Linked DNA regions of Homo sapiens. The protein of the gene in region 1 purifies or fractionates together with the protein of each later gene. This does not show direct contact. Each region holds a gene or a part of one and is shown on either strand. Other genes may lie near its edges. The genes, in order: STARD13, KIF13B, WRAP73 and ZBTB21.

The links.
Region 2: the proteins of STARD13 (region 1) and KIF13B purify together in Homo sapiens (affinity purification with mass spectrometry, with the first as the bait; one large-scale study listed by BioGRID). This does not show direct contact.
Region 3: the proteins of STARD13 (region 1) and WRAP73 purify together in Homo sapiens (co-immunoprecipitation; one large-scale study listed by IntAct). This does not show direct contact.
Region 4: the proteins of STARD13 (region 1) and ZBTB21 purify together in Homo sapiens (affinity purification with mass spectrometry, with the first as the bait; one large-scale study listed by BioGRID). This does not show direct contact.

Annotation. Positions count from the first base shown.
Region 1 is NC_000013.11:33,128,699-33,132,267, reverse strand, and holds part of STARD13 (stAR-related lipid transfer protein 13), read left to right. Parts: intron 1-1,978; coding exon 1,979-3,339; intron 3,340-3,569. UniProt on the Homo sapiens protein: GTPase-activating protein for RhoA, and perhaps for Cdc42. May be involved in regulation of cytoskeletal reorganization, cell proliferation and cell motility. Acts a tumor suppressor in hepatocellular carcinoma cells.
Region 2 is NC_000008.11:29,253,056-29,256,624, reverse strand, and holds part of KIF13B (kinesin-like protein KIF13B), read left to right. Parts: intron 1-3,569. UniProt on the Homo sapiens protein: Involved in reorganization of the cortical cytoskeleton. Regulates axon formation by promoting the formation of extra axons. May be functionally important for the intracellular trafficking of MAGUKs and associated protein complexes.
Region 3 is NC_000001.11:3,643,546-3,647,114, reverse strand, and holds part of WRAP73 (WD repeat-containing protein WRAP73), read left to right. Parts: intron 1-332; coding exon 333-449; intron 450-3,569.
Region 4 is NC_000021.9:41,993,299-41,996,867, reverse strand, and holds part of ZBTB21 (zinc finger and BTB domain-containing protein 21), read left to right. Parts: intron 1-2,759; 5' UTR 2,760-2,772; coding exon 2,773-3,569. UniProt on the Homo sapiens protein: Acts as a transcription repressor.

The DNA.
Region 1 (3,569 bases):
TGGGAGCTACAATATTCAAGATTAGATTTTGGTGGGAACACAACCAAACCGTATCAGCCACCGCACCTGACTTCTAAGCCATAGAATTCTTTTCTGTACCTTGGCTTTGTACTCGCTTTCACTTTAAACTTGAATGTTCAAGTTTGTCATTTAGTCAAACCTACACGGAAACTAGATTTTGAAGGAATAAACAAGAATAGGAGGATCCCCACAATGATTAACTGTGCATCTGCTTAGGTTTCCTTAAAAACAACACACTGCAAGGTTAAAGGGAGTTAAAGTGGACGCTAGATACATAAAAAGATTAGTAGGCAATTGAACAAACATTGAAAGATACAAATAAGCAAATACCTCTCAGTGAGGGACTGCTGAATGCACTACCTTCTTTATTCTCTTCAGCAAACCTATGAGGCAAGACCCGCTTCAATCTTATAAGTGGCAGAAACTTACTTTAGAGAGGGTAAGTAGACTGTGGACAGTCACCTAGCTCTTAACTGGTATCACTGACACTTGGAACCAGGTCTTAAAACTGAACACCCAGGTAGAGTAAAATAAATTTAATTCAATTCACAAAAAATAAGCAATTATTATGTCCTTGGCATTGGACAGGCTATACATATGAATAAATATGTTTATATGAATAATGAAACAGAGAAACACAGGTCTTGCTCTTTTTTATTTTTTTGAGATAGTGTCTCACTTTGTTGCTGCGGCTGGGGTGCAGTGGTGCCATCACGGCTCACTGTAGCAGGCCCGGCTCTTGATGACTTCACCTGTAACAACTGAGAGTGGAGGCTTTCAAGCAGAAGGCTTCTAAGCTGAAAAAAAAAAATCATATGATTCGATTTGGACTACACTGTGGAAAGCTATTTAGATGGGGAAGATGCTGGAGACAGGGTTTCTCCCACATTTTTACTGTAACAGATCCAGAGAGAGGTGGCAAGGCCTACACTAAGAGAATGAGAGTGAAATTACGAATGAGGGAACAGATTTGAAAATCAGTTCAGAATTAGGTCTTGGTGATGTGCTTGGTGAGGATGAAGCAGGATCCGATGATTCAGTTTATTTCAGAAGGAAATGATATGCTCTAGGTCAAGGTCTGCGCTGGGCCCAAGGCTATGCAAAGCTAAACCAGGCCATCTCTGGCCTCAGGGAATGCAGATGCTCCCCTCTCAGGGGCTGCAAATTCAGGCAGAAACCAGACACCTAGAGTCAATGTGTGAGGCCCAAAGTGTAAGACAGTGCCAAGCCGCGGGGACCCACTGCAGCCACACAGAGGTGTGCGTCCTGCCAACGGCATTCTGACTCGGAGTTGATTCCACAGAAAAAGACGCTCATGCAGAGTAGCCGGATTGGATCACAAATAGCGATCTCCAGAATGGCTCCCTCATCTCTACTTAAAGAAATTCAGTGGTTCATTTTGCTGTTACCTTATCCAGGGAATACACGATAAGAATCAAGTGCAGGGGACTAAAATAAGGAGTGTTAGCTTTGAGATATACTGAAGCTGAGATTCAGATGGGGCAAGCTGGAAATATGGTCCCCGGGGCTCAGTGAAGAGGTTTCTGGAAAGAAGTAAGTGCCTTTTATGGCAGAGTTGAGTTCCTTTGTGAAAAAGAAGACTGCAGGTGCTTTATATTTAGACCGTCTAGTCTGATGTAATTATACCCTCTTTATAATCAGTCAGGGAAAACTTCTTAGAGAGGAAGGAAGGAGGCATTCAAAACCTCTTTGAAAATGGGAAGGAAGAAAGTTTGGCAAGTTGAGAAGGGTCCTCTGGCCACTGGGAGGAAGGGTATGTACAAGACAGTGCAAGTGGTAGAAGGACAGCTTAGAGGTGCCCAAGAAGCTCACACCTGTGCATGGGAGGACAGAGGGGAGGGAGGTGGAGGACCACACAGGGCTGCCCTCAGAGCACCCAGAGTTCCTGCTTCAGCCACGCTGTCTGCTAATGAGCATTTTCCTTGGTGCTCTGCAGGGTGACGACTCCGATGAGGAAGATCTTTGTATCAGCAACAAATGGACTTTCCAAAGAACCAGTCGCAGGTGGTCTCGTGTGGACGACCTCTACACGCTGCTCCCTCGAGGAGACAGAAATGGGTCACCGGGAGGCACGGGGATGAGGAACACGACCAGCAGTGAGAGCGTCCTCACAGACCTGAGCGAGCCTGAGGTCTGCTCCATTCACAGCGAAAGCAGTGGAGGCAGCGACAGTCGCAGCCAGCCGGGCCAGTGCTGTACAGACAACCCGGTCATGCTGGATGCCCCACTCGTCAGCAGCAGCCTCCCACAGCCCCCCAGAGATGTCCTCAACCACCCCTTCCACCCCAAGAATGAGAAGCCCACGAGGGCTAGGGCCAAATCATTTTTGAAACGCATGGAAACACTCCGAGGGAAGGGAGCCCACGGGAGGCATAAGGGGTCTGGGCGGACAGGTGGCCTGGTGATCAGTGGGCCCATGTTGCAGCAGGAGCCAGAGTCCTTTAAGGCTATGCAGTGCATCCAAATACCAAATGGAGATCTCCAGAATTCGCCGCCACCTGCCTGCAGAAAAGGGCTCCCATGCTCTGGCAAGTCGAGTGGCGAGAGCAGCCCGTCGGAGCACAGCAGCAGCGGGGTGAGCACGCCCTGCCTGAAGGAACGCAAGTGCCACGAGGCCAACAAGCGCGGGGGCATGTACTTGGAGGACCTAGATGTGCTGGCGGGGACAGCACTGCCGGATGCAGGGGACCAAAGCCGTATGCATGAATTTCACTCCCAAGAGAATTTGGTGGTGCATATTCCCAAGGATCACAAACCAGGAACATTCCCCAAGGCACTTTCTATTGAAAGCCTCTCTCCCACAGATAGTAGCAATGGGGTTAATTGGAGGACCGGTAGCATCTCCCTGGGCAGAGAGCAGGTCCCTGGTGCCAGGGAGCCCCGGCTCATGGCGTCCTGCCACAGAGCCAGCCGAGTCAGTATCTATGACAATGTCCCTGGCTCCCATCTGTATGCCAGCACAGGAGATCTTTTGGACTTGGAGAAAGATGACCTTTTCCCTCACTTGGATGACATTCTGCAGCATGTCAATGGGCTCCAAGAGGTAGTCGATGACTGGTCCAAAGATGTCTTGCCTGAACTGCAAACTCATGATACATTGGTTGGGGAACCTGGCTTATCCACCTTTCCATCTCCTAATCAGATCACCTTAGATTTTGAAGGTAACTCTGTCTCAGAAGGTCGGACGACACCCAGTGATGTGGAAAGAGATGTAACATCTCTTAATGAATCTGAGCCTCCTGGGGTCAGAGACAGGAGGGATTCTGGTGTAGGGGCCTCTCTGACCAGGCCAAACAGGTAGGTGGCATGCACTTGTGAAATGATTTTTCATCCATTTCATAGTAATTGTGTTCTGTTTATTTCTTTAACAAACATACACAGAGTACTTACTAAATGCCTGACTCTGTTCTAAGTGATGTATGTGATTAGGAATTATTTGAACAGAAGTATGACTTCTGTACAGGTATCATGGTGATTGAATCCATGTGAACTCATATTTATTTGTGCTTATCCTTTATTTTGTTCCT
Region 2 (3,569 bases), on another chromosome or scaffold:
GCTATCCTGAGATGACACCATTTTCAAAGATGTGCAGGATAAACTGGAAGCATAAGTCTTGATCTTCCATCAAAGGAGCTCCCAGTCTTGTTGATAATAAGATGCACATGTGAGTTCATTGGAAGAATATATGTACCTAGTGCACTGATGGCAGCCAATCATGAATTAAAGAAATGGGGGTGGAATTTGAGAACAGCACAGAAGACAGCACAAGCAGGCCCCTTGGCTCCAAGTTCCACCGGGGTGACGTGGAGGAATCCAGATGGGTGCTGCACATACAGTGGGTTTGTGTCGGCATCTGAGGATCACTGAACTTGGGGAATCCGCTGCAAAGTCTCTGATTTAGATGACTAGGTGAATGCTGGTGTCATTAACTGAATCAGAAGCACAGGAGAAGCAGGTTTTAGGGTGGAGGTGTGGGAAATGATGAGTTCTAGTCTCAGTCAACAGTGTGTCGTCAGTGCTTATGTGCTGTGTACCCTGCCTGCAACTATGAATAAGATGCAGTGTGTGCCTGGAAGCAACTCAGCACAATTGAGTTTTAGGTGTCTGAAGTGCAGCCAGGTGGATGGATCCAGAAGGCCATTGTGAATATGAGTCTGAAACGAAGGGACTGGACGTAGGTGTAGATTTCGGAGTCATTACTGTAGGTAGAAGATAGAGCACCTCAGGTGTGTCTGTGACAGAGGCGGTCACAGAGGCCAAGAAGAGCAACCTCAGGAGAATCAGGTGAAAGCAATGTTGTGGATGCCTAGGGAGGAAAAATGTGTCAAAAGAGTGAAAGGTGAAAGCAATCACATGTCACAGGAATGGCCGCGTGATTAACACAGAATTGTGTTCAGTGGATTTGGCATTATGATGGTCAGTGTTCATTTTCAGGATAATTTCACTGAAACGAATTAATTGGTATTGGGCATTGGCAGTGGGCTGAGGAGTGAGTGGGCGTGCCAGTATGGAGGCAGCGAGTCTCAAGAACATTCCTCTGAGAAACTCCAGGTAGAAGGGGAGGGTTCAGAGTGGTACCTGGAGGGGTAGGTACCTTTTTTTAAAAAAAAAAGTTTTGGGGAGATATTTGAACCTTGTATAGATAGAGCCAATAGATAGAAGTTTTTGAAATATGGGAGGAAGAGAATAATTATATAATGGGAAAGCCCAGGAATTTCAAGCTTAATTTTCTTGATGGGGTAGAATGTGAGGTTATTGAAAGTAGGAGGAATTGGGTGAGCTGGGGTCTTCTGAGTAGTGAATGTGTAGGAATGTGGTTGAAGGACCCTAACTGTATTTTCTATCTATTGAGGGTACTGGGGTCATCCATTCCGAGTTTTTTCTTCTTGGTTTTTAGATATAAGTCACATCCCCAAAGTGTACCATTCACTGGGTTTTAGTTTACTCACAGACTTGTGCAGCCATTATTAGTATACAATTCCAGAACATTTTCATCACCCCACAGAGGAACCTTGTAACTGTTAGCAGTCAGTCTCCATTTCCCACTTCCCAGCCCCTGGCAACCACTAATCTACTTCCTGACTCTATGGATTTGCTTATTCTGGACATTTAATACATGGAATCCTATATTATGTGGACTTTTGTATCTCACTTCTTTCACTTGGTATAATGTATTCAGGGCTCATCCATGTTTTGTCATGAATCAATACTTCATTCTTTTTATAGCTGAACAACATTCTGTTACACAGATATGCTGTGTTTTGTATTCATTCATCAATTGATGGGCATTTGGCTTGTTTCCAATTTTTGGCTATTATGAATGATGCTCCTTTGAACATTTATGTACAGGCTTTTGTGTAGACATGTGTTTTCATTTTTCTCAGATACGCATATGTATAGGAGTGGAATTTCTGAGTCATATAGTAACTAACTTTTGAGGAACTGTTTTCCAAAGCATATGAACCATTTTACATTCCCATAGAAATGCATGAAGGTTCCACTTTCTCCACATCCTCACCAACACTTGTTCTTGTCTCTCTCCATGAGTATTGCTATCCTAGTGGGTATGAGGTGGTATCTGATTGTGGTTTAGATTTGCCTTTCTCTGGTAGATAATGTTGAGCGTCTTTTCATGTGCATATTGGCCGTTTGTATAGCTTGAGAGAGATCTCTATTCACATCTTCCCCTTATTTCAAAAACTATATCTTTTTATTACTGAGTTGTAAGACTTCTTCATACATTCTGTATACCATTCTGTTATCAAATAGATGATTTGCAAATATTTTGATTTTATGGGTTTCTTTTTCACTCCCTTGTGTCCTTTGATGCATGAAAGTTTTAAATTTTGATGAAGTCCAGTTTATTTTTAGTTGCTTGTGATTTTGCTGTGATTTCTGAGAAACCATTATCTAACATCATGTGGATTTTCATTTGTTTTCTTCTAAGAGTTTGATAGGTTTAGCTCTTACATTTAGATCTTTGATCCAGTTGGAGTTTTGAATGTGGTATGAGGTAGGGATCCAACTTCATTCTTTGGCATGTGGATATCCAGTTGTTCTAGAACCATTTGATGAAAAGACTGTTCTTTCTCCATTAGATTGTCTTGGTACCCTTGTCAAAATCAATTGACCATAACTGTGACAGTATGTTTCTGGACTCCCAATTCCATTCCATCAATGTATATATGTCTTTCCTTATGTAAGTACCACACTGTCTTGATTACTCTACCTTTGTATTAAGTTTCGAAACTGGGAGTCAAGTCCTCTGACTTTGTTTTTCTTTTTCAAGATTGTTTTGGCTATTCTAGTTCTGCCTTAAGCGGGTTTTTTTTTTTTTTTTTTTTTTTTTTTGAGACAGTCTCACTCTTCTCACCCAGGCTGGAGTGTAATGTCGTAATCTTGGCTCACTGCAGCCTCTGCCTCCCAGATTCAAGCAGTTCTCCTTTCTCAGCCTCCTGAGTTTCTGGGATTACAGGTGCCTGCCACCCTGCCTGGCTAATTTTTGTATTTTTGGTAGAGATAGGGTTTCACCATGTTGGCCAGGTGCCTTATGAGTTTTTTAAATACCTGTTTCTTAGTCTTCTGAGGTTGATTGGTTTCTTTTTTAAACTGTTTATTTGTTTAGAGATGGAGTCTCATTCTGTTGCCCAGGCTGAAGTGCAGTGGTGTGATCATAGCTCACTATGACCTTGACCTCCTGGGCTCAAGATGTCTTCCCACCTCAGCCTCCCAAAGTGCTAGGATTACAGGCATGAGCCACTGCACCCAGCTGATTCATTTCTTGAGTATGAACATTTTATGTTTTTGGTCACATAGGATTATTTTATTTGTTTTCAGATATGGGGTCTTGCTCTGTTGCCCAGGCTGGAGTGTAGTAGCACAATCATAGCTCATCACAGCCTGTAACTCATGGGCTCAAATGATCCTTCCATCTCAGCCTCCTGAGAAGCTGGGCTACAGGTGCATGCCACTACACCTGGCTAATTATTTTTTTTAAATTTGTTTTAGGGACAGGTTCTTGCTGTGTTGCTCAGGCTAGTCTTGAACTCCTGGCCTCAAGTGATCCCCCTGCTTCAGACTCCCAAGTAGCTGGGGGATTATTTTAATTATTTTCACACTATCAC
Region 3 (3,569 bases), on another chromosome or scaffold:
AAAGCTTAACTAAATGAGGTCTTAGGAATGACAATGTGAATAAACAGTTTTAAAACAACAACGAAATGAAATCACCAAGAAGCGTGGCTTACTTTTACACTGGAATCCAGCACCAGCCCTTCATCATGAAAGGTTCTAAAAGACACCCTGTGTGATCGGGTCTCTGCTGGTTTTAAGGGAGTTGTCTCTCGGCGAGGCCTCGCTATAGACTGCTGATGAGTTTGAAGACACCCTGTGCGGTCGGGTCTCCGCTGCGTTTAAGCGAGCTGTCCTCGCTGTCTCTCGGTGCTGATGAGTTTGCACTTGTGTGTTTCTTTCTTCTCTCAATCCAGGTCTGGTCTTTAGAGCAGCCCGAATGGCACTGCAAAATAGACGAGGGCTCAGCCGGGCTGGTGGCCTCGTGCTGGAGCCCGGACGGGCGCCACATTCTCAACACCACGGAATTCCATGTAAGTGTCAGCCCCAAGACACCTTACTGGCCATGTGATCCTGTCCTCTGCTCTCGAAACAGCTGGGGAGTGCGAGAGGGGGTGTGTTTGGAGTATGCTAGTCTCCCCTTATCCTCAGGGGATGCATTCTAAGACCACCAGGGGATTCAGATTGTACCAAACCCTGTATTTCCTGTGTTTTTTCCTATACAGCATACCTGTGATACATTTAATTTATAAATTAGATACAGTAAGAGATTAGCAACAATCATAGTATAGAACAAGGATAACAATATACTGTTTATAATTGCATGGATAGAAGATTTGGTCTTACTGAAGATCTGAGCAACAACCTCAGCATAGGATTTTTTCTTTCCTTGTTGCGTCAAGAACTTTCAGCTCGTCATTTAAAGGAAGCACTTTGTGGCTTCTCTTTGGCGTATCCAGATTGCGAGCCCCACCGCCCGTGCTTTGGGCTGCTACTGAGTCAGATAAGGGTGTCGTGAACACAGGCACTGTCTGCTGCCCTGGGTCTGATGACTGAGGTGGCTCCCGAGTGGCTGGTAGATTGGCGGGGTTGGAGGGAGCCGGGGAGCGTATATAGTGGTGTGTATATTTTAGGTCAGAGCATTATAAGCCACTAAGTATTATTGTCTGATCTTTTGTCCAGTTTTGAAGAAAAAACATTTTAAAAATCTTAATTTAGATTTTTTAGGATTTCGGCACTCCCTTTAATTCAACGATAGAAAATGCGCTGTGATATGAGCCGGCTCGCACCTTTCCTTCAGGAGCCTGGCCTGGGGGCGTGGCTCGGGGCGGTCGGCAGCCGCCCATTCACCTGCTGTAGGTACCGCACAACAGCCTCCGTGCTGAGCTCAGCGCGGAGGGGAATGTTGACATCCGAGAATAAATCAGAGGGATCTGGGATAGGAGACTGCATTTTAAGTTAAAATTAGGCATATGTCAAGTGTTTAGATACCAGGTCTTTGGTGTCCGCAGTGTCTTTTTAAGATACAGAAAAATGGACGAATTCCTTTAATAATGTGCTTTTCTGATGGAGTTGGATCCCAGTGTTTGGGCCCAAGTCCACTGAGTGCTCATAGCTGTCTGGGCTGCTGGCTGCACCTCGGTAACCCGCCCATCCCGCTGCGCCGCGCACACCACGGGGCAACCCGCCCATCCCGCTGCGCCGCGCACACCACGGGGCAACCCGCCCGTCCCGCTGCACGGCGCACACCACGGGGCAACCCGCCCGTCCCGCTGCGCCGCGCACACCACGGGGCAACCCGCCCGTCCCGCTGCGCCACGCACACCACGGGGCAACCCGCCCATCCCGCTGCGCCGCTCACACCACACTGCAGCCCTCCCGTCCCGCTGCGCCGCGCACACCACGTAGATGATGGCACCTGGGAGGATTTCTCCCAGCGTGTGGCTGCAGATGCTCTGTAGGGTTTCATTCGGCTTTTTTCAAGCTGGCATCGGCTGGGATAAAGTTTTATCCAGCCATGAGGGTTGCTGAATCAACTGCTTCAGATGGCTGGATGGCTTTACATATTTTTCAGTTTCGATTTTAAAAAATACTCCAAATCTAATGTCTGCTATTATGGGCTGTCAGAGAATAAGACAGGAAACAAAGGCCCACCAATGTCTCCGCACTATGTATTGACATTGGAAGGCACTTTCGGCCTGAGTGTTTCAGAGAGGATAATTTGAGCTTTTCACGCAGCCGTGTCTAACAGTCTTCAGGCCTGTAATGCTTTGGGCCCAAATCTGCCCTTGAGAAGGGCTCATGTCATGGGGTCAGCCTTGTTGTATTATCTTATTAAATGGCCCAGAAGGAAAACTACCATCTATAGAGTTTAGAAACCTTAAAAGATGGATAAAAGCCTGGTTTTGTTGAGCATCCCATGTCACACACACCAATATTGAAAACACCTTTGCTACAGAACAAACTGATTTTTCATAGAGTACATTTAGATGACATTGTTCAACCTAAGACTAAGGTCATGACCACTTTGCTGGTGGCCTTAGAGGAAACGTTAAGACCAGGTGGTGGATGAGGACCGGTAACCTCAAGGCATGGGGCATCTTGACCAAGATGTCAAAATGTGTCTCCAGCTTTGCATGCGAACTTTAATGGTTGCAAGTGAGGAAACAAAACCGGAATTCCAGACGTGCTGGCCAGGAAGTGAGCTGCGGGCACCGTCCATCAGTCTCATTCACAAGAGCAAGGACCAGACCCGTTCGAGGATTAGCGGGGCCACTAGGTCCCCTTCTGAAGGCGCGACCCCATGTCCGGGGCTCAGCGGGGCCACTGGATCCCCTTCCGAAGGCGCGACCCCATGTCCGGGGCTCAGCGGGGCCGCTGGGTCCCCTTCCGAAGGCGCGACCCCATGTCCGGGGCTCAGCGGGGCCGCTGGGTCCCCTTCCGAAGGCGCGACCCCATGTCCGGGGCTCAGCGGGGCCGCTGGGTCCCCTTCCGAAGGCGCGACCCCATGTCCGGGGCTCAGCGGGGCCGCTGGGTCCCCTTCCGAAGGCGCGACCCCATGTCCGGGGCTCAGCGGGGCCGCTGGGTCCCCTTCCGAAGGCGCGACCCCATGTCCGGGGCTCAGCGGGGCCGCTGGGTCCCCTTCCGAAGGCGCGACCCCATGTCCGGGGCTCAGCGGGGCCGCTGGGTCCCCTTCCGAAGGCGCGACCCCATGTCCGGGGCTCAGCGGGGCCGCTGGGTCCCCTTCCGAAGGCGCGACCCCATGTCCGGGGCTCAGCGGGGCCGCTGGGTCCCCTTCCGAAGGCGCGACCCCATGTCCGGGGCTCAGCGGGGCCGCTGGGTCCCCTTCCGAAGGCGCGACCCCATGTCCGGGGCTCAGCGGGGCCGCTGGGTCCCCTTCCGAAGGCGCGACCCCATGTCCGGGGCTCAGCGGGGCCGCTGGGTCCCCTTCCGAAGGCGCGACCCCATGTCCGGGGCTCAGCGGGGCCGCTGGGTCCCCTTCCGAAGGCGCGACCCCATGTCCGGGGCTCAGCGGGGCCGCTGGGTCCCCTTCCGAAGGCGCGACCCCATGTCCGGGGCTCAGCGGGGCCGCTGGGTCCCCTTCCGAAGGCGCGACCCCATTTCGGGGGTTAGTGGGGCCGCTGAGTCCACTT
Region 4 (3,569 bases), on another chromosome or scaffold:
GCTCTCCTGAGATTTATTCACTATCACAAGAAGAGCATAAGAAAGACCTGCCCCCATGATCCAGTTACTTCCCACTGGGTGCCTCCCAGATGTGGGGAATTGTGAGAGCTACAATTCAAAATGAGATTTTGCTGGGGACACAGCCAAACTGTATCATTCCACCCTGGGCCCCTCCCAAATCTCATGTCTTCACATTTCAAAACCAATCATGCGTTCCCAACAGTCCCCCAAAGTCTTAACTAATTTCAGCATTAACTCAAAAGTCCACAGACCAAAGTCTCTTCTGAGACAAAGCAAATCCCTTCCGCCTATGAGCCTGCAAAGTCAAAAACAAGTTAGTTACTTCCCAGATACAGTGGGGGTACAGGCATTGGGTAACTACAGCCGTTCCAAATGGGAGAAATTGGCCAAAACAGAGGCTTACAGGCCCCGGTGCAAGTCCAGAATTCAGCAGGACAGTCAAATCTCAAAGCTCCAAAATGATCTCCCTTGACTCCATGTCTCACATCCAGGTCAAGCTGATATAAGAGGTGGGCTCCCATGGTCTTAGGCAGCTCTGCCCCTGTGGCTTTGCAGGGTATAGCCCCCACTCCTGGCTGCTTTTATGGGCTGGCATTGAGTGTCTGTGAGTTTTGCAGGCACGCAGTGCCAGCTGTCGACGTATCTACCATTCTGGAGTCTGGAAGATGGTAGCCCTCTTCTCACATCTCCACTAGGCAGTGCCCCAGTGGGGACTCTATGTGGGGGCTTCAACCCCACATTTCCCTTCTGCATTGCCCTAGCAGAAGTTTCTCCATGGGGCCCTGCCCCTCATGGAGGGGACACAGCCCTGCAGCAGACTTCTTCCTGGATATACAGGTGTTCTCATACATCCTCTGAAATCTAGGCGGAGGTTCCCAAACCTCAGTTCTTTACTTCTGCACACCTGCAGGCTTAACACCACATGGAAGCCGCCAAGGCTTGGAGCTTGCACCATCTGAAGCCATGGCCCAAGCTGTACCTTGGCCCCTTTCAGCCATGGCTAGAGCACCTGGGACACAGGGCACCAAGTTCCTAGGCTGCACACAGAAAGGGGGCCCTGGGCCTGGCCCACAAAACCATTTTTTCCTCCTAGACCTCTGGGCCTGTGATGGAAGGGGCTGCTGCAAAGGTCTGACATGTCCTGGAGACATTTTCCCCATTGTCTGGGTGACTAACATTCGGCTCCTCCTTACTTAGGCAAATTCCTGCAGCCAGTTTGAATTTCTTCTCAGAAAATGGGATTTTCTTTTCTATCGCACTGTCAGGCAGCAACTTCTCCAAGCTTTTATTCTCTACTTCCCTTATAAAACTTAATGCCTCTAACAGCACCTGAGAACCTCTTGAATGCTTTGCTGCCTAGAAATTCCTTCTGCCAGATACCCTAAATCATCTCTCTCAAGTTGAAAGTTCCATAGATCTCTAGGGCAGGGGCAACATGCCACCAGTCTCTTTGCTAAAACATAACGAGTCACCTTTGCTTCAGTTCCCAACAAGTTCCTCATCTCCATCTGAGACTACCTCAGCCTGGATTTCATTGTCTGTATCATTATTGGCATTATGGTCAAAGCCATTCAGCAAGTCTCTAGGGAGTTCCAAAGTTTCCCACATTTTCCTGTCTTCTTCTGAGTCCTCTAAACTGTTCCAGCCTCTGCCTGTTACCCAGTTCCAAAGTCGCTTCCACATTTTCGGGTATCTTTTCAGCAGTGCCCCACTCTACTGGTATCAATTTACTGTATTAGTCCATTTTCACACTTCTAATAAAGACATACCCAAGACTGGGTAACTTACAAGAAAAAGCGGTTCAGTGGACTCACAGTTCCACGTGGTTGGGGAGGCCTTTTAATCGTGGTGGAAGGCAAGGAGGAGCAAGTCACATCTCACATGGCAGCAGGGAAGAGAGAACTTGTGTAGGGGAACTCCTCTTTATAAAATCATCAGATCTCATGAGGCTTACTATCATGAGAAGAGAACGAGAAAGACCCACCCCCATGATTCAGTTACCTCCCACTGGGTCCCTCCCACGACGTGGGAATTGTGGGAGTTACAATTCAAGAGGAGATTTGGGTGGGGACACCACCAAACCGCATCACCTGGCAAGGTGGCATGTGCTTGTGGTCCCAGCTACTCAGGAGGCTGAGTGGGAGGATTGCTTGAGCCCAGGAGATTGAGGCTGCAGTGAGCCATCATGGTGCCACTGCACTCCAGCCTGGGTGACAGAGAGATACCCTGTCTCAAAATAAAAACAAGGGTCTCACAAGACCTGCTTTGCAACCAATTGTTAACAGTTCACATTATGTTTAAGTATATGTAGTAATAAAGCTGATTTTCTTTCAGAATTATAGACTTCAGGGGTTTGATAATTCGTACTTGTTTTCTGAATTGGTAAGGAATAGTGCCAAGCATCAAATGGATAAGGACCCTAAATAATAAACCTTTATTTTCAAATATTGCTTCCATATCTACCTGCCAAGTTCTGGCAGCCTTTTTGATGATATACAAATGCCTATATTATAGTTCCTGCAATTCTTCTATTTTAATGAGGACCTACTTAAACCACGAGACTTATTTTACATTTTCACCATTATTTAAATAAGATTGTTCATTCATAGAGCTTCTGTTAGCCTACGGTCTGCTAAATATTGGTACCTATGCAAAGACAGCTGATGTTCCCTGCTCTTGAGGAGCCAGGGGAACTTTTCACTGCAATATCTGTAGTAATTTTACATTTTGTCTTTTAGATAAACTCAAGCCATGGAGGGATTACTGCATTACATCAACCCTGCACACGCCATTTCTCTCCTAAGTGCCCTGAATGAGGAGCGTCTCAAAGGACAGCTGTGTGATGTGCTGCTGATTGTTGGAGACCAAAAGTTCCGAGCTCATAAAAACGTCTTGGCTGCCAGCAGCGAATACTTTCAGAGTTTATTCACAAATAAGGAAAATGAGTCACAAACTGTATTTCAGCTTGACTTCTGTGAGCCAGATGCTTTTGATAATGTTTTAAACTACATTTATTCTTCCTCTCTATTTGTTGAGAAGAGCAGCCTTGCTGCTGTGCAAGAACTTGGCTATAGTCTTGGGATTTCCTTTCTGACTAACATCGTTTCTAAAACACCTCAAGCCCCCTTTCCAACGTGTCCTAATAGAAAAAAAGTGTTTGTAGAAGATGATGAAAACAGTTCTCAAAAGAGAAGTGTCATTGTTTGTCAAAGTAGAAACGAAGCGCAAGGAAAAACTGTTAGTCAAAATCAACCCGATGTAAGCCATACTTCCCGGCCCTCTCCTAGCATTGCAGTCAAGGCCAATACCAATAAGCCACATGTCCCAAAACCAATAGAACCACTTCATAATTTGTCATTAACTGAAAAGAGTTGGCCGAAAGATAGTTCTGTGGTATATGCAAAGTCTCTTGAGCATTCTGGATCTTTGGATGATCCTAATAGAATCAGTTTGGTGAAAAGAAATGCAGTGTTGCCTTCAAAGCCTCTGCAAGACAGAGAAGCTATGGATGATAAACCAGGTGTGAGTGGTCAGCTTCCAAAAGGAAA